Linked DNA regions of Homo sapiens. The protein of the gene in region 2 purifies or fractionates together with the protein of the main gene of each other region. This does not show direct contact. Each region holds a gene or a part of one and is shown on either strand. Other genes may lie near its edges.

Region 1 (3,500 bases), on a different chromosome or scaffold from region 2:
CCTGTCTCTCCTAAAAATACAAAATTAGCTGGGCGTGGTGGCGTATGCCTGTAATCCCAGCTACTTGGAGGCTGAGGCAGGAGAATCGCTTGAACCTGGGAGGCGGAGTTTGTGGTGAGGCGAGATCACGCCATTGCACTCCAGCCTGGGCAACAAGAGTGAAACTCCATCTCCAAAAAAAAAAAGAATGTAAGAATGTAAGCATGAACATATAAGACTTGGAGATTAAATAGAATGCAGTGGTTTAGAGACAAACACCAGAGTTAGACTGCCTGGATTTTAATCCTGGTCTGACTTTTCATTTGTATGACATTCGGTAAATTGCTGAACATGGCTGTACCTCGATTTCCTCTTTGGTTAAATGGAAGCAGTAGTATCATCTTTGGAAGGTTGTTGTGAGGACTAAATGCATTATAACATCTAAGAAAAGCAAGCAGAGATACTCAGCACTGTAAGCCTCCTGATAGTGTGGCTGGCAAATCTAGAGCCATAAACCACGATTAAGGCCAGAAAATTTACTTTACTCTGAAGGATTTCATAAAGAATCTAGGGTTTTATTTTCTCTCTCTCTTTTTTTTTTTTTTTTTTTTGAGATGGAGTCTTGCTCTGTGGCCCAGGCTGGAGTGCAGTGGCACAATCTTGGCTTACCGCAACCTCCGCCTCCCGGGTTCAAGCGATTCTCCTGCCTCAGCCTCCTGAGTAGCTGGGATTACAGGTGCACACCACCACGCCTGGCTAATTTTTGTATTTTTAATAGAGACGGGGTTTCACCATGTTGGTCAGGCTGGTCTCCAACTCCTGACCTTGTGATCCACCCACCTCAGCCTCTCAAGGTGCTGGGGTTACAGGCTTTAGCCACTGCACCTACCCTCATGATTAGTAGATCACAGTGAATAAAATTAGCAGATCTGTTATACATTTTAATGAATGCTTATTAAACACATCTCTTTGGCAGTGCACCTCCTGATGAGCTGGGTTAGCGTAGGGGTGTGAGGGCCGGGCCAGCTGCTTTGATTGCTGCTTTGACAACAGTATTTTCCCTTGTCCCTCATTGATCCCGGTAAGAGGAAAGTTGTGCCTTTCCTTTGTAAAGTGGGAGGGGATACCCGGGAAAGGACGGCCAGATTGGTGCATAAGTCAGACTCCGAGCAGTTTCAGGCATGAGTGCACGTGAACAAATAGATAGAAAGTGATTCCTCAAGGCCTGGCGGTGCTCACGCATCCTTCTTGATACCTGCATGCTGAGAAGGTAGAGACGCTCACCAGGTGATTCTTCTGCCCTCTCAAGGCTGAGAGAGCTGCTCTGTGAGGGCACGGCGTGGTGCTTCAGGATGTGGCCTCTGCGTCATGTCTGCCTGGGCTTCGGTCCCATCGCGGGGGCTTCCTGGGTGTGCCTTATCAGTGTCGTCCTCTGTAGTGAGTTCAGGCATCACAGCAGCTCTCTTATGGAGTGGCTGTGGGAAGGAAATCCAAGAATTCATGGAAAGCCTCCAGTCCAGCGCCTCGTCCCTCATACACTTGCAGTCGGTAGGAGCCGCTTTAAGCTGATAACTTCCTCTGTGATTTGTGATTGGAACATCAGCATTGAAAATGTTATGTGCCATATGAAGTGCAAAAGAGAAGAATTTACTGGTAGGATGTCTTTGCAAAAAATCCAAGGTGTCCCTGGGAAGTGGCTGCAGAAGAGAATGTTTCAGCTTGTGGAAATAATGAGCCCGTGCTGGGCTTTGCCTCAAGTGCGGAACATCTGCCTTCACGTTCTTTCGAGCCTGCTGTATAGTTCCCATAGGGAACTATACCTTTGAAATAAGTGACTCCTGGGAGGGGTTGCAGTGCAGTCACATGTTGTTGAATGGACACGTGCTTGTTTCGCTCCACTGTCAGGGTGAGAGTTTCTTTTTTTCCAATTTCTCTTATATCCTCTGAAGAAGGTTGGTTTGTTGGATTTTTTTTTTTTTTTTTTTTGAGATGGAGTCTCGCTCTGTCACCCAGGCTGGAGTGCAGTGGCGTGATTTCGGCTCGCTGCAAGCTCTGCCTCCCAGGTTCACGCCATTCTCCTGCCTCAGCCTCCTGAGTAGCTGGGACTACAGGTGCCCGCCACCACGCCCGGCTAATTTTTTTTTTTGTATTTTTAGTAGAGACGGGGTTTCACCATGTTAGCCAGGATGGTGTCGATCTCCTGACCTCATGATCTGCCTGCTGCGGCCTACCAAAGTGCTGGGATTACAGGCATGAGCCACCGCGCCCGGCTGCTTTTTTTCCAGTTTCTCTAACCTCATATCTGAATGTTCTTAAAACTGTAGGAAAATTTAGTCTCTCTTCTGCCTATGATCGTTTCTGTGGCACTCTTCTGTCTGAACTTGACAAGCAGATACAGGTGAGAGAATGCAGGTGGCTAGCTAATTTATAATTGACTCTAACCCCAGATCAACCTGCTCTGATCAACCTTTCAGGCAAGGACCTACTTTCTGGCTCACATTTTCCCTTCCGTCAAAGGCGTTACCACTCGGATGTCTTCCTCAATGGTGTGTTCCTGCTCCTTTTGCCCTTCCAGTTGTCCTTCCCGAAACCCTGAAAAGGTGGCTTGGAGCTATTGCTGCTCCTCCATGCGTCACCTAATCGTCATCTCTGATCTGTATTTAGGTGATCATTTAACCTGTCTTACCTTTATTTACTTTTTAAAGGAACTTTTTATTTTGAAATAATTACAGGCTTGTAGGAATTCGCAAAATAATTCAGAGAGTCCTGAACGTCTTTCCCCCTGTTCTCCCAGGGTGGAGAGACATTACATTGCTGTGGCTTTTCGCAACCGGGAAGTTGACATTTGGTGTTACTGTCAACTGCACCACAAACCTTAGCCAGTTTTCATCATCTTTTTTTGGTCTCCATTCATTTGTACATGGGCGGATGGTTCTGTGCAATTTTATCACAAGTGCAGATTCATGCAGCAACCACAATGGTGAAGATACAGGATTGGCCACCACGGCACAGCAACCTCATGCCTCATCTTTGTATTTGTACCCACTGTACCTTCATCCTTGTCCCCTCGAAACCATTCATCTGTCCTCTCTCTCTGTAGTTTTGTCATGTCGAGAATGTTCTGTAGATGGAGTCATATGTTATGTTTGTAGATGGACCTCTGACTAAGCACAATGCCCTGGAGTTTGTTTTGGCCATTGCGGTGGCAGCGGCCGCCGCTCTTTACTGTGGAGTGGTATTCCACTGTAAGGATGGCCCAGGGGTTGCTCAGCTGTTCATGCATTCACACGTTGAAGGACTTGGGGGTGATTTTTGGTATTTTGCTATGATGAATAAGGCTAATGTGAACATTTGTGTCTAGGTTTTGTGTGAACACAAGTTTCCATTTCTTCCTCAAGGATTTTCTAAATTTCTGGAGGGCAGCCTGGCCTGATCCATAGTATGCAAATTAAGGAAATATTTCTAATCATTTGACTCCTAGAAAGAAAACAGAGATCCAGCAGAAGGGTGCTGTTGCAGAG
Region 2 (4,233 bases):
CAAGGGACAGGGTTTCACCATGTTGCCCAGGCTGGTCTGGAACTCCTGGTCTCAAGGGATCCACCTACTTCAGCCTCCCAAAGCCACTGTGCCTGCCCTGGCCTGAAGTTTTCTTGTAAGAAGTGGTGTGTGTGTGTGTGTGTGTGTGTGTGTGTGTGTGTGTGTGCAGAGAGAGAGGAGGGAGGCTTAACCAAAGATTCTGAGTACTACGATAAATACAGAGATACTCAAATTTTCTTCTTTTGTTGATTTTTGACAGTTTGCGTCTTTTAAGGAATTTGTCCATTTCACCTATGCTTATTGGCATAAAAATGTTCATAATGTTCTTTTAATATCCTTGTCCTTTTAATGACTAAATTTCATAGTGATGAAACCTTTTTAATTCCTGATACTGATAATTTGTTTATTTTCTTTATCAGTTTGGGTAGGGGGGTTATCAATTATATTGCTCTTTTAGAAAAACAACTTTTGCATGTATTTCCTTCCATTTATTTCATCCCATTTATTTCTACTATTTATCATTTCATTCATTTTGCTTGCTTTGGTTTCAATATGCTGGGGGTTTTTTCTAGTTACTTAAGACAAAAGTTTATTGAATTGAGTTCTTCTTTTTAATGTAAGCAGGTACTGTTACAAATTTTAGTGTTTTCATTTTAATTTAATTCAACGTATTTTCTAATTTTCCTGTGATTTTTCCTGATTCACAGGTTAGTTAGAAGTATGATTCTTAATTTCCAAATATTTAGAGTATTTCAAGTATCTACTTTATTTCTAGTTTAATGCCATTATGATCAGACTATACACTTTGTACGATTTAAATCTTTTTAAAGTTGATGACATTTGTTTTATGGCTCGGAATATGGTATCGCTTAGTGAATGTTTCATGTGCACTTGACAGGAGTGTGTATTCTGCTATTGTTGGGTTGGTCACCTATAAACGTCAATTAGGTCAAGTTGGTTAGTGCTTTCCAAGTTTTCCATATCCATACTAATTTTCTGTCTACTTGTTCCATCTGTTACAGAGAAAATTAATTGTTGCACTTGCCTGCCTCACAGTCCATGGACAAAAGGCATCTGCATTCTAACAAGAGTTGCTGGCCCCAGAGCGGGAAGAGGGGACGGCGCGACTGTGGGTGTGAACGAGGCACTCACTTCGCACTCACTGGAGTAAATATCTTCTCTTTGGTCCGGCCAGAGGATAAACCCATAGTCCTTAAGTCCTCTCCTCCGCCTCAGCAGCAGTTCTGTTTTTTTTTTTTTACCAGGCCCCGCCTTTCAGCCGAACGCACCAATTAAAGGTACAAAAAAAAAAGTTTCTCAGTACCTCGTCCCGGACTGACGGACTCTCGCGAGAATTCGTGGGGCTCCGACTGTTTCCGCGCAGATATCGCGAGGCGATTGGTAGCCGGGGGAGGGCTGCGCCGTGGCCCCGCCTTTCCGGAGCGCGGGCGCGCGGTGGCGGGAATTTCGCCTGTTTGCGGTTTAGACCCCAAAGATTCCTGTTGGTGGTCTGGGTCACAGGAGGCAGGTTTCGGGAGCTGGAAATGTGAGCGGGTACGACAGGCACCGCGGGTAACCGACGCCCCGGGTCCTTGCTGCAGCCGGGTACGCGGGATACCGGCACCCCGCCTTCTCCGCCCGAGTGCTGCCAGGCGTGGGCCTGGTGGGTCTCGCCTCCTCCTTGGAGGGTCGGGGTTGGCCCTAGGGGTTGCTTTCCTAATTTCCACCCCGAGCCGGGGAGGGAGCGTTCTCCACCCTGCTGCTGGGAAACGGGCGGAGAGTGGTTTAGAAACGTTGCGGAGGGCGCAGTTCTAGGCAAGCCCGGGACGCTATGTCCTGCAGACATTTCTTTGCTTTTCACCTTGTCCTGGGCTGCAGAGCCCGACTTAGTGGCCGGATTTCGAGGTCCCTGCCACAGCCAGTTGGTTGTGCATTTTGTCTTAAGTTCTGACAGCCTTGATGGACGGAGGGCGAGGGGGAATTGGGAATTTGGCCTCTGGGTTTGTTCGTTTGTTTTTCCTTCCTGCTGGCGGACGTCTTGAGAACTTTCTGAAGTAATCCCCACTCTCTCGGCCCCACCCCCCCCCCCCCAACAGGAATCTCTTCACACCTTCTCTTTGGAGCCCTTAATGATACGACGAACCCCAAGTGTTTCAGAACATGAAGTAAACAATGGAGAACTGTTCTGCTGCATCGACGTTCCTGACTGACAGCTTAGAGCTGGAGCTGGGGACGGAATGGTGCAAACCTCCTTACTTTTCTTGTGCTGTTGACAACAGAGGAGGAGGAAAACATTTTTCTGGAGAATCCTACCTCTGCAGCGGAGCCCTTAAGCGGTAGGTAAAACTCAGAGACATTTTCCCTCATCTGATTATTCACCAGTTTTTTAGGAATGTTAGTTATTTCAGCCCATTAAACTTTGGTGTTCACCAAGTCGTGTTTTATAAATCAGCTTAGTATATCATAAGGGTACAAATGATTATCAGTTCTGCTGGCTTCTTGGTAAGGGCATATCTAAAGTATTTGGGGTATTAGGGAAAACTTCCTTGGTAACTGATGTTCCCTTACTGTAGGGAGCTGGGCACTAATTTTTCTTCTACTTAAAATGAATTCCTAACTATCTGAGCCTTTTGCAGTAGTATTTCCTTCTAAAGAGTGTGATAATATTCTAGAGCTTTCCAGTAATATTTAAGAGAGACAAACATTTTTTATTGCCCCTGTTCCTTCTAATCCTACCTGCACATATAGAAGTGTATAGACTTATTTTGCCTTGGGCAGGTACATATATATTACAGTAAAACTGTTCTTGAAATATTTTGGTAATACCTGCTGAGGCAGTTTCAGTGAGGAAACTATTTTTGTTGACCTTATAGTTGTACCTTGTTAGAAATCTTAAATAGAATACTCAACTTCATTAGTTGGATACTATTCTCCAGACATGGCTCAGAATAACTGTTAGCAGTTTTAAAATTAAATGTCCCCTCAAAGGATGAAATTCTACAACTGAAGACTACTGGTGAAGACAGGCAGAAATATGTTTTTTAGAATTCTTGTTGATTTTTCCTCTTAAGTTACATTACACTTTAGTCGTACATTTTATCAATATAGAAGATTGACGTTTTAATACAGTCTAGCTATTGTAATCTTGAATGTGTAAAGTACCAAGGCATTTTCTGACTTTTTATACATGTCATGTATAATATGGATTCAAATAATGTAAAGAAAAGAGCCGTCGTATTATGGTACTTAGTATACTTTTTATGAGATTGAAACAATTTTCATTTCAGATTGATTTTGAATCTTGACCCTTTACCAACTAATTTTGAAGAAGATACCTTGGAAATATTTGGCATTCAGTGGGTTACTGAAACAGCATTAGTGAATTCATCTAGAGAACTCTTTCATTTATTCAGGTATTTCTTCGTTATAACTTTCTGTGAGTGTAGGTGTTGTTCACTTTTGTAAATTACGTTGTTGGGTGGCTTCTAATACTGATATTACAAAAGACCAGAGGAATTGTGCTGGTTGCTCACTTGATTATCTTACCAGTAACAATAATCAAGCAGCAATGCCTGATGAGTAATGGTTTTAATGAGTTGCGTTTTCAGAATCTTTATTCTTTGCATTTGACACATGTATTGACAAATATTTAAGGCTTTGAACTATAATTTTTAGAAGAAAATTAAAATATTTTTGTTGTGCAATAGCCATAGTCTTTCAGTGATCTTTAGAGTATGGTCTTAACAAATAAATTGTTTAGACTGTGTAATAGAAATATTAATTATTTGGACAACATTTAAAATTTTTTTAATGAAAAATTTTAAGCATACACAAAATAATAATATAATGAACATCCATATACCCTCCTTCAGTTGCAGTAAACAACAACTTTTTATTACATTTCCTTCATCTGTCTTGTCTCCTCTTCTTTTGGCCTAAGTATTTGTAAGGAAATCCTAGGCATCATGTCGTTTCACCCATAAATACTTCAGTATGAATTTCTTAAAAATATGTGCTTTTTAAAAACGATGAGGACGGCCAGGCGCGGTGGCTCATGCTTGTAATCCCAGCACTTTGGGAGGCCGAGGCGGGAGTTCGAGACCAGCCTGACCAACATGGTGAAGCCCCTTCTGTACTAAAAATACAAAAATTAGCCAGGCGTGATGGCATGCGTCTGTAATCCCAGCTACTCAGGAGGCTGAGGCAGGAGAACTGCTTGAACCCAGGAGGCGG

The links. The genes of interacting proteins can lie anywhere in the genome.
Region 1: the proteins of MMS22L (region 2) and PINX1 purify together in Homo sapiens (co-immunoprecipitation; one large-scale study listed by IntAct). This does not show direct contact.

The regions. Positions count from the first base shown.
Region 1 is NC_000008.11:10,826,376-10,829,875, reverse strand, and holds part of PINX1 (PIN2/TERF1-interacting telomerase inhibitor 1), read left to right. Parts: intron 1-3,500. UniProt on the Homo sapiens protein: Microtubule-binding protein essential for faithful chromosome segregation. Mediates TRF1 and TERT accumulation in nucleolus and enhances TRF1 binding to telomeres. Inhibits telomerase activity. May inhibit cell proliferation and act as tumor suppressor.
Region 2 is NC_000006.12:97,280,417-97,284,649, reverse strand, and holds the start of MMS22L (protein MMS22-like), read left to right. Parts: upstream 1-1,433; 5' UTR 1,434-1,554; exon of another isoform or gene 1,555-1,663; intron 1,664-2,096; 5' UTR 2,097-2,172; coding exon 2,173-2,336; intron 2,337-3,287; coding exon 3,288-3,413; intron 3,414-4,233. UniProt on the Homo sapiens protein: Component of the MMS22L-TONSL complex, a complex that promotes homologous recombination-mediated repair of double-strand breaks (DSBs) at stalled or collapsed replication forks.